Linked DNA regions of Homo sapiens. The protein of the gene in region 1 purifies or fractionates together with the protein of each later gene. This does not show direct contact. Each region holds a gene or a part of one and is shown on either strand. Other genes may lie near its edges.

The links. Proteins that work in one complex are often made in the same cells at the same time.
Region 2: the proteins of DTX4 (region 1) and HLTF purify together in Homo sapiens (affinity purification with mass spectrometry, with the first as the bait; one large-scale study listed by BioGRID). This does not show direct contact.

What each region holds. Positions count from the first base shown.
Region 1 is NC_000011.10:59,171,032-59,174,786, reverse strand, and holds the start of DTX4 (E3 ubiquitin-protein ligase DTX4), read right to left. Parts: upstream 2,192-3,755; coding exon 1,981-2,191; intron 1,523-1,980; coding exon of another isoform or gene 1,342-1,522; intron 1,089-1,341; exon of another isoform or gene 290-1,088; intron 1-289. Other genes in the region: basic proline-rich protein-like, read left to right, coding at 1,342-1,522, 2,057-2,865. UniProt on the Homo sapiens protein: Regulator of Notch signaling, a signaling pathway involved in cell-cell communications that regulates a broad spectrum of cell-fate determinations.
Region 2 is NC_000003.12:149,029,565-149,032,173, forward strand, and holds the end of HLTF (helicase-like transcription factor), read right to left. Parts: 3' UTR 563-2,609; downstream 1-562. UniProt on the Homo sapiens protein: Has both helicase and E3 ubiquitin ligase activities. Possesses intrinsic ATP-dependent nucleosome-remodeling activity; This activity may be required for transcriptional activation or repression of specific target promoters.

The DNA of each region.
Region 1 (3,755 bases):
CTAAATTGCTCACCACCAGGCAGTCCTCAGGTAAGAGTGATCAGACCTGGGAAACGTAGCTTCTTTCCTTCCACCCAGTTTTCTCTACAACTTCGCTTCTGTAGAAAGGGTCATGAACCTTTGTAGATACCTTGCCTATCCTAAGTACCCCCAAACACAGATTCCACCTTTGCCCTTTCCAAATGTGGGAAAGGGGCTGAGACGTTTCTGTCACAAGGGTGGTTTTCCAAATGCTGTAGAGATTTACTCTGAAATAGAAAAGGTAACACCTGCTTTTTTTTTTTTCCAGGACTGGAATCCCCTGTCAGATGCTTTAACTGCTGGTCTCTCTCTCTCTCTCTGGTCCCACCTCCGTGGCTCAGCTCCGCCCAACACACACCCCCTCCACCCTCACCTTCTGATGCCTCCACCCTCACCTCCACAACCTTTACCCAAGTTGCGCAATGACATTCTCTCCCTCCCCCTCAGCCACACTTAATCCTCTTTCTCAATCTCCCCACATTCCTCTCTATTCTCTGCTCCTCCCAGTCTCCCTCAGCTCCACACACGGTTGAAGCCCCTCCAGATTCTAACACTTCCAGAATCCTCTCCCCAGAAAGCTCTCCTCAATCAGCCAGTGTCTGCAGAGTCCTTGGCAAAGGGGTTGCTGGGAGTTATGACTAAAGATGGGGACATGAGGGTGGAAAGATACCCCTTTCCCATGACAATCCTAATTAGCACACAGGATGTGGGGGCTTTCCAAGGAAGCAGAGAGACTCTGCTCAAACAGCTGTTCACTGGGGAGGGCCTTTCCGAGTCATCTTCTCTACGTCCTCCCCAGCACACCGGCCTCTCCAGGCTCCTCGGTTGCACTCTTGGGAAAGCCGAGCCAGAATTCCAGAAACAATGGCCCCCTCCCCACCTGTCACTGACGGAGGCAGAAACTCTTCCCGGGTCATCGATTAAGCAAGGACCGAGCAAAGAGAGGCAGTTTTGCTCTCCCTTGGGCAGCACCCCCACTCCCCACCCCCCAAGGCCCCATCCTGGAGGCTCCCTTCCTGGCTCTGACCTGGAAAGGCAGGTCAGCTGGGAAGCGGGTTTGTGCTGGCTACAGTGACAACTTGATTCTCATGAAAAGATAGGAGTTTGGCGCTCCAGGAGACCATGGGTTCCTTACAGGCTATGGTTTCAAGAGGAAGCCTGGGGACAGTTTCTCCTTAGGAATCTGCGTCCTCCTCCTCCGCAGACAAAGGGAGCGGCTTCCCTGCCATGCATTCCGAAGCCCCGAGCCTCCCCCTCCTCTCTCCATCTGCTCCGGCCTGTTGCTTCCGCGCATGTAGTGTGTAGCAGAGGCATTCGCCAATGCCGCGGCGTCCAGGGTACCCCAGCCCTAGTCTCTCCTCCCAGGGAGCCCGGCGCTTCCCTTACCCGACTGTAGCGAGAACCTCCGGGGAATCCCTTCTTCCTCCCCCAGTTCCCACACCCAGGACCCAGCTGCGGGGAGGCATCCCACACAGGAGACGCAGAGGCAGTGAGATCGGGGGTGAGGGGACGTGTGGCAAGCCCCAGCGTGCCTGAAGCAAAACAGGGTCAGGTCAGCCAAGGTGCCGGCCGCCACGGGATGAGGGCAGGAAGCCTTTGCGAAGGGCTGGGATTGCCTGTAGTCTGGGGCGGCCCTAGAATTTCTACATAGAAAGACTTAGGGCCACCAACTGCTGAAAAGCGGGGGCATGAAAGGGGTGGGGAGTGGATTGTTACCGACTAGGTTGAAGCTGGGTTTGCAAAACCACAACACTGATACTATTTGCATGGATGTTTAAGGGGGAGGGAGGATCCTGCGAGGATTCAGCGGAGTGAATCGCCTCCCACCACCACCTCTTGGTGACACTGCTGCACAGAAGTGCCGACTAGGTGGCCAAGGTGGGTTCACAGGGAGGGAGGTACCTTGGCAGGTTGGGAAGGTGGGAGCAGGCGGGGCGGGGTCAGGGGCGGCTGGCTCACCCGTGTCTTGGCGGAACTGGTTCATGGACTGCAGGTCGATGATGTAGGGCGCGAGACGGCTGTCCACCTGGCCCAGCACCACGCTGCCCCCCGCGCGGGGGCCGGCGCGGACCACCGCCTCGATGTGGTGGCTCACCGCTGGGCTGTAGGGACGCCAGCGGCCGTGCTCGTTCAGCCATTCCCAGACCACCACGGCCGAGGCCAGGAGCATGGCGAGCCCGGGGCTGCGGCGCTGCGCGGCCCGCCTCCCGGGCCCCGAGCGCCCGACCTCCTCCGCTTCCTCCTGCGCCGCCGCCTCCGGGCCTCGACCGCGCCCCCTGCCCCGCGCCCCGCCGCCCCGGGCAGCCTCAGCTCCGGCCCATGGGCTCCTCCCCAGCCGTGCATCCACCGGGGCCGGGACACCGGGGCCGCCTGGCTGGGACCGCGCGCCGCCGCCGCCGCCGGGGTCCGCTGCTGCTGCCGCTGCTCTGTGGGGTCGAGTCGCTTCATGCAAATGCCCGGCTCTCTGCAAACAGGCCCCCGCCTTGCAAAAGCCACTCGGCGGGCGCGCGGCCCGAGCCCCGGCGGCCGCGAGCTGGGGCTGACGGCGAGGCAAGGACCCAGCCCTCGCACCAGTTGCGCCTCGGCCTCTGCAGACGCCGGGGTGGGATCTCGCCGCACGGCCGCGCTCGGAATGGCACGCTCTGGTCCCCTCCCCTCTCTCCCTCCCTCCCCACCCCTTCGCCGCACGAATTGCAGTCCCCGCCGCTGGGAGAGCTCCCCCTGCCTGTGGCTCTGCTCAGTTCCTTCCAGAATGAACCACCCCTCCCAAGCAGGGCGCTAAGGCAAACCCGCGCCCGCGTGTGTTTCCCTGGTTCCTTGATGCAGAGAAGCGACCCGCCATGACACGGCCCCGGGACCACCACTGTCGCCCAGCCGCAACTTTGCAGCCTCCTTCCCCCAAATGTAATTTTCTCTCTCTCTCTCTTTTTTTTTCCTTAATGCAGCATGATCAGTGTCCGCAGCGCGAACTGGAGACACGCATTGTCTCGGGGCTTGCGCACGCACTGGCACACTCACAGTCGCACACACACGCGCGCGCACCCCAACTCCTTCCTTGCCCCGGCTCCTATTACCTCATCCTCTCCCGCATCCTTAGCTGTCCGTCAAGGAAGCAGAAGACACGCCCCCTGCTGCTCGGGCGAGTGCCCTGGAGCTTACCCGCCCCCTGCTGGCCTAAAGTGTCGTGTGCCGGCCAGTGGCCACTCCAACCTCTGCTAATGAGACCCAGTCCAAAGGGATGCAGCAATTTCGCTAATGATGGATTTATATTACCTACGTAGAGAGCAAATGTGGTTTTTCTGGCCAGATTCAACGTACTAGAGTCAGGAAGACGCATGTTAGATTAATTTTATCTGCATCGTTTCTGTAACTAAAATTATGAAACACTAGGAAAAACACGAGTTAGACTTATTTTGATCATCAATAGTTAATATGGAAAATAACCTTAAATAGGTAGGTTCTGACTAAAAGGGAAGACTGAAGTCAGGATTATGCATTATCCTTGTCAAAGAACACAAATTTTGTTTTGTTGAGATTGCAAACCACATAAAACAACGAATCGAGTCTTATCAAGATCCAAGTTATAGGATGCGGGAAAGTAAAAATAGATTATGTGTTAGAGAATGGGATTGTGAATCTTTTTGAAATAATCAATTTTTTCATAAATATCATATGACCCTTTTATGTTTTAGAAGAGTTGCTTCCCCCTCCCTCTCCTTGCAGCTGTCATTTCT
Region 2 (2,609 bases), on another chromosome or scaffold:
TTGAGTTTTTGTTAAGAGCCAAACATCAAATGTGCCCTTATATTTTTAATGAATCTCATCCAAATGCTAATGCATAAACCTTGACAAGTAGTATAAATAAAACAAGAAAAAAATACAGCAATGTCTTTGCCATTCCCCAAAACAAAGCACACACTGCCGAAGATCATTAGTACTCACTGGTAACAAACTACATAGGGTTAGTTTGTATTTCCAATTCTAGAGCTGTAATTTTAAGGACAAAATGTACAATGATTGATTAAGAGTGCTATCTGTGTATATATAGGTATTATCACAACTCCTTTTTTTCTTCCAGATGAAGAAATTAATTGGGACCAATGTTTTTAGATCAAGGCATTTTAAATAAGCACTCTTGATTTCTGAACAAGAATTTCAACCAGCTAAATTGAGCAAAATAAAGTTAGTTAGGATATGAGGACATTATTCTGTTACAGTAATCTTCATGTACTCTCAAAAAAATGTAACACTTGCATAGAAATGTCACAATTAATGAAGGATTTTATTTGAAGATAAAGTCAAAATTATGGCACCGAGGAAGGTAATAAACATTTGAAATTTTTATTGATTTTTAAATTTAAAATCCAGTTTTAACCACAAAATTGTTTGAATCACAAGTGGTAATACAATGTCTTCAATATTTTTCTAAAGTTATTTTTCTATATAATAATAAGACAACAGCATAGCATATAGGAAGTTTTCATTCCAGTGGCTTTTTTATATATTTATCCTTCTTAGGAAGGACAAATTAAATTTTTTAAATTAAACTTTTAAAATATAACAACATCTAACAGAACTGTACAAAACAAAGAGACATTTTTTAAACAACTTGCCAAACTTACTTATGAGTGTGTTTTAAAAACAACTTTGTAAATGTCTGGGCAAAGAAGCAAGCTGTCCTCCCTTTACCTTCATAGTGAGTTTGTAAGGCTTTGTCTTTGTAAGCAGAAAGAGTAGACTGTGTTGTTTTTTGCCAAAAACTGTTTATACTTAATCTCACTGAAGTATTGCTATATGGAGAACCCATACTCTGATCAACTTGATTTTTTGTGTGTAATGCTTGATCTACCAGGTAACTTCCCAACTGCTCCTAATGCTAGCGGGCTAATCCCACATTATTATTCCACTATCATCCCTGCAGAAAGGTCTTGGTTTTGATGAAAATCAGCCCTTTCCTTACCTGCTACTGCCTCAAAAAGGGACCAGGAAGATTCTAGCTGGCTAATTCACTGTTCCCTTTGAGCAAGAAAACGGCACAGGGAGAAAAGGACTTATCTGGTGAGAGATTTGGCATATACCTTCAATGTGTGCCCTATAACACAACATTGTCTCCGATCTCATCTTTCTATCAAATGACTTCCAACACTCTTAAGTCTCAGGTATTCTTAAATCTGTATCATCAAACATGAAGCTTCTCTTGTTTGTTAGAGTAATTAATCTTTCTTTGGATTAAAGTTTCCCTTTGAAATAAAACCACCTACCTAATCTGACTGCTAAATTTCTAGCTTCTTTGTTTTAAATATGCTCAGGAGTCAACCCAAATTCTGCAGCAAATAAGTTTGCTTATTAACAAAAAAGTAAAAAAAAAAGAAAAGAAAAAAGATGACTAATTCTACAGATAGCTGTAAGGATGAATTACTCAAGTTCAAAATCAAATTCTGATTCTAAACACATAACAATTGTTTACATTCAGGATTAAGATGTCTTTAAGAGTTGAAACGACTTTGGAGATCATCCAGCCCAACTTCCATCCAGATATCACGCCTCTCACATATAGTAGTCTTCTGAATTATAAAAATTTATAAAGTTACTTCCAAAAAAAGCTACATAAATAAAAATTATCTATTTATAGAAATATCTATTTAGCAGTTCCATAATTTAAAATATTCAAATCAAATTGGGTAGGACTGGTTTGCCTCTCACTCCCACAGACTATATTTATACCTCAGACACAGCAAGTTACATTTAAACAATGAGTGTAGTACTACTTAACTAAAATGGAAAAAATAGTACTCTTAACATAATCCCTAATTTTTTCATGAACATAAAACTCCAAGTCATTTATGTGAACTATATCTCAATGTAGCTGTAGGAAAAATAAAAACCTGTGCTAACCTGGACTTTGGTCTCATTTAAGATTTGGTTCTGGAATGCAAATATGGTTTTTGAAAGCCCAATAAAATTAATTCTTGTATAGTCTGTATATATTGTTTACAAGGACTACAAACACTGCATCACAAATCGGAGGCTTTGGTAAATAACTAAGTGTCCAACATAGAAAATAACTATTTGGTCAAAAGTATAAAAGGTCTGACCTTATTTGAAATACGAAAAAGCTGAGTACTTGGAAGATACGTGAAAATACTCAGCATAGATATTATGAAAAGCTGAATAACAAAGTAACCTTTTTTCTCAAATTATTTCAGGCCACAGTATATAACGGAACTTATTGCTATTTGAAGTTTCATTAAAAATAGGTTCATATATAGAAGAAATTGTGTCAGTAATACCTCTTCACTAATATAAAATATGCCCCTTTTAGAAGACGTGTTCTCTAGATCTCATTTCTAAAACTCTGTATTTTTCTCATTTCT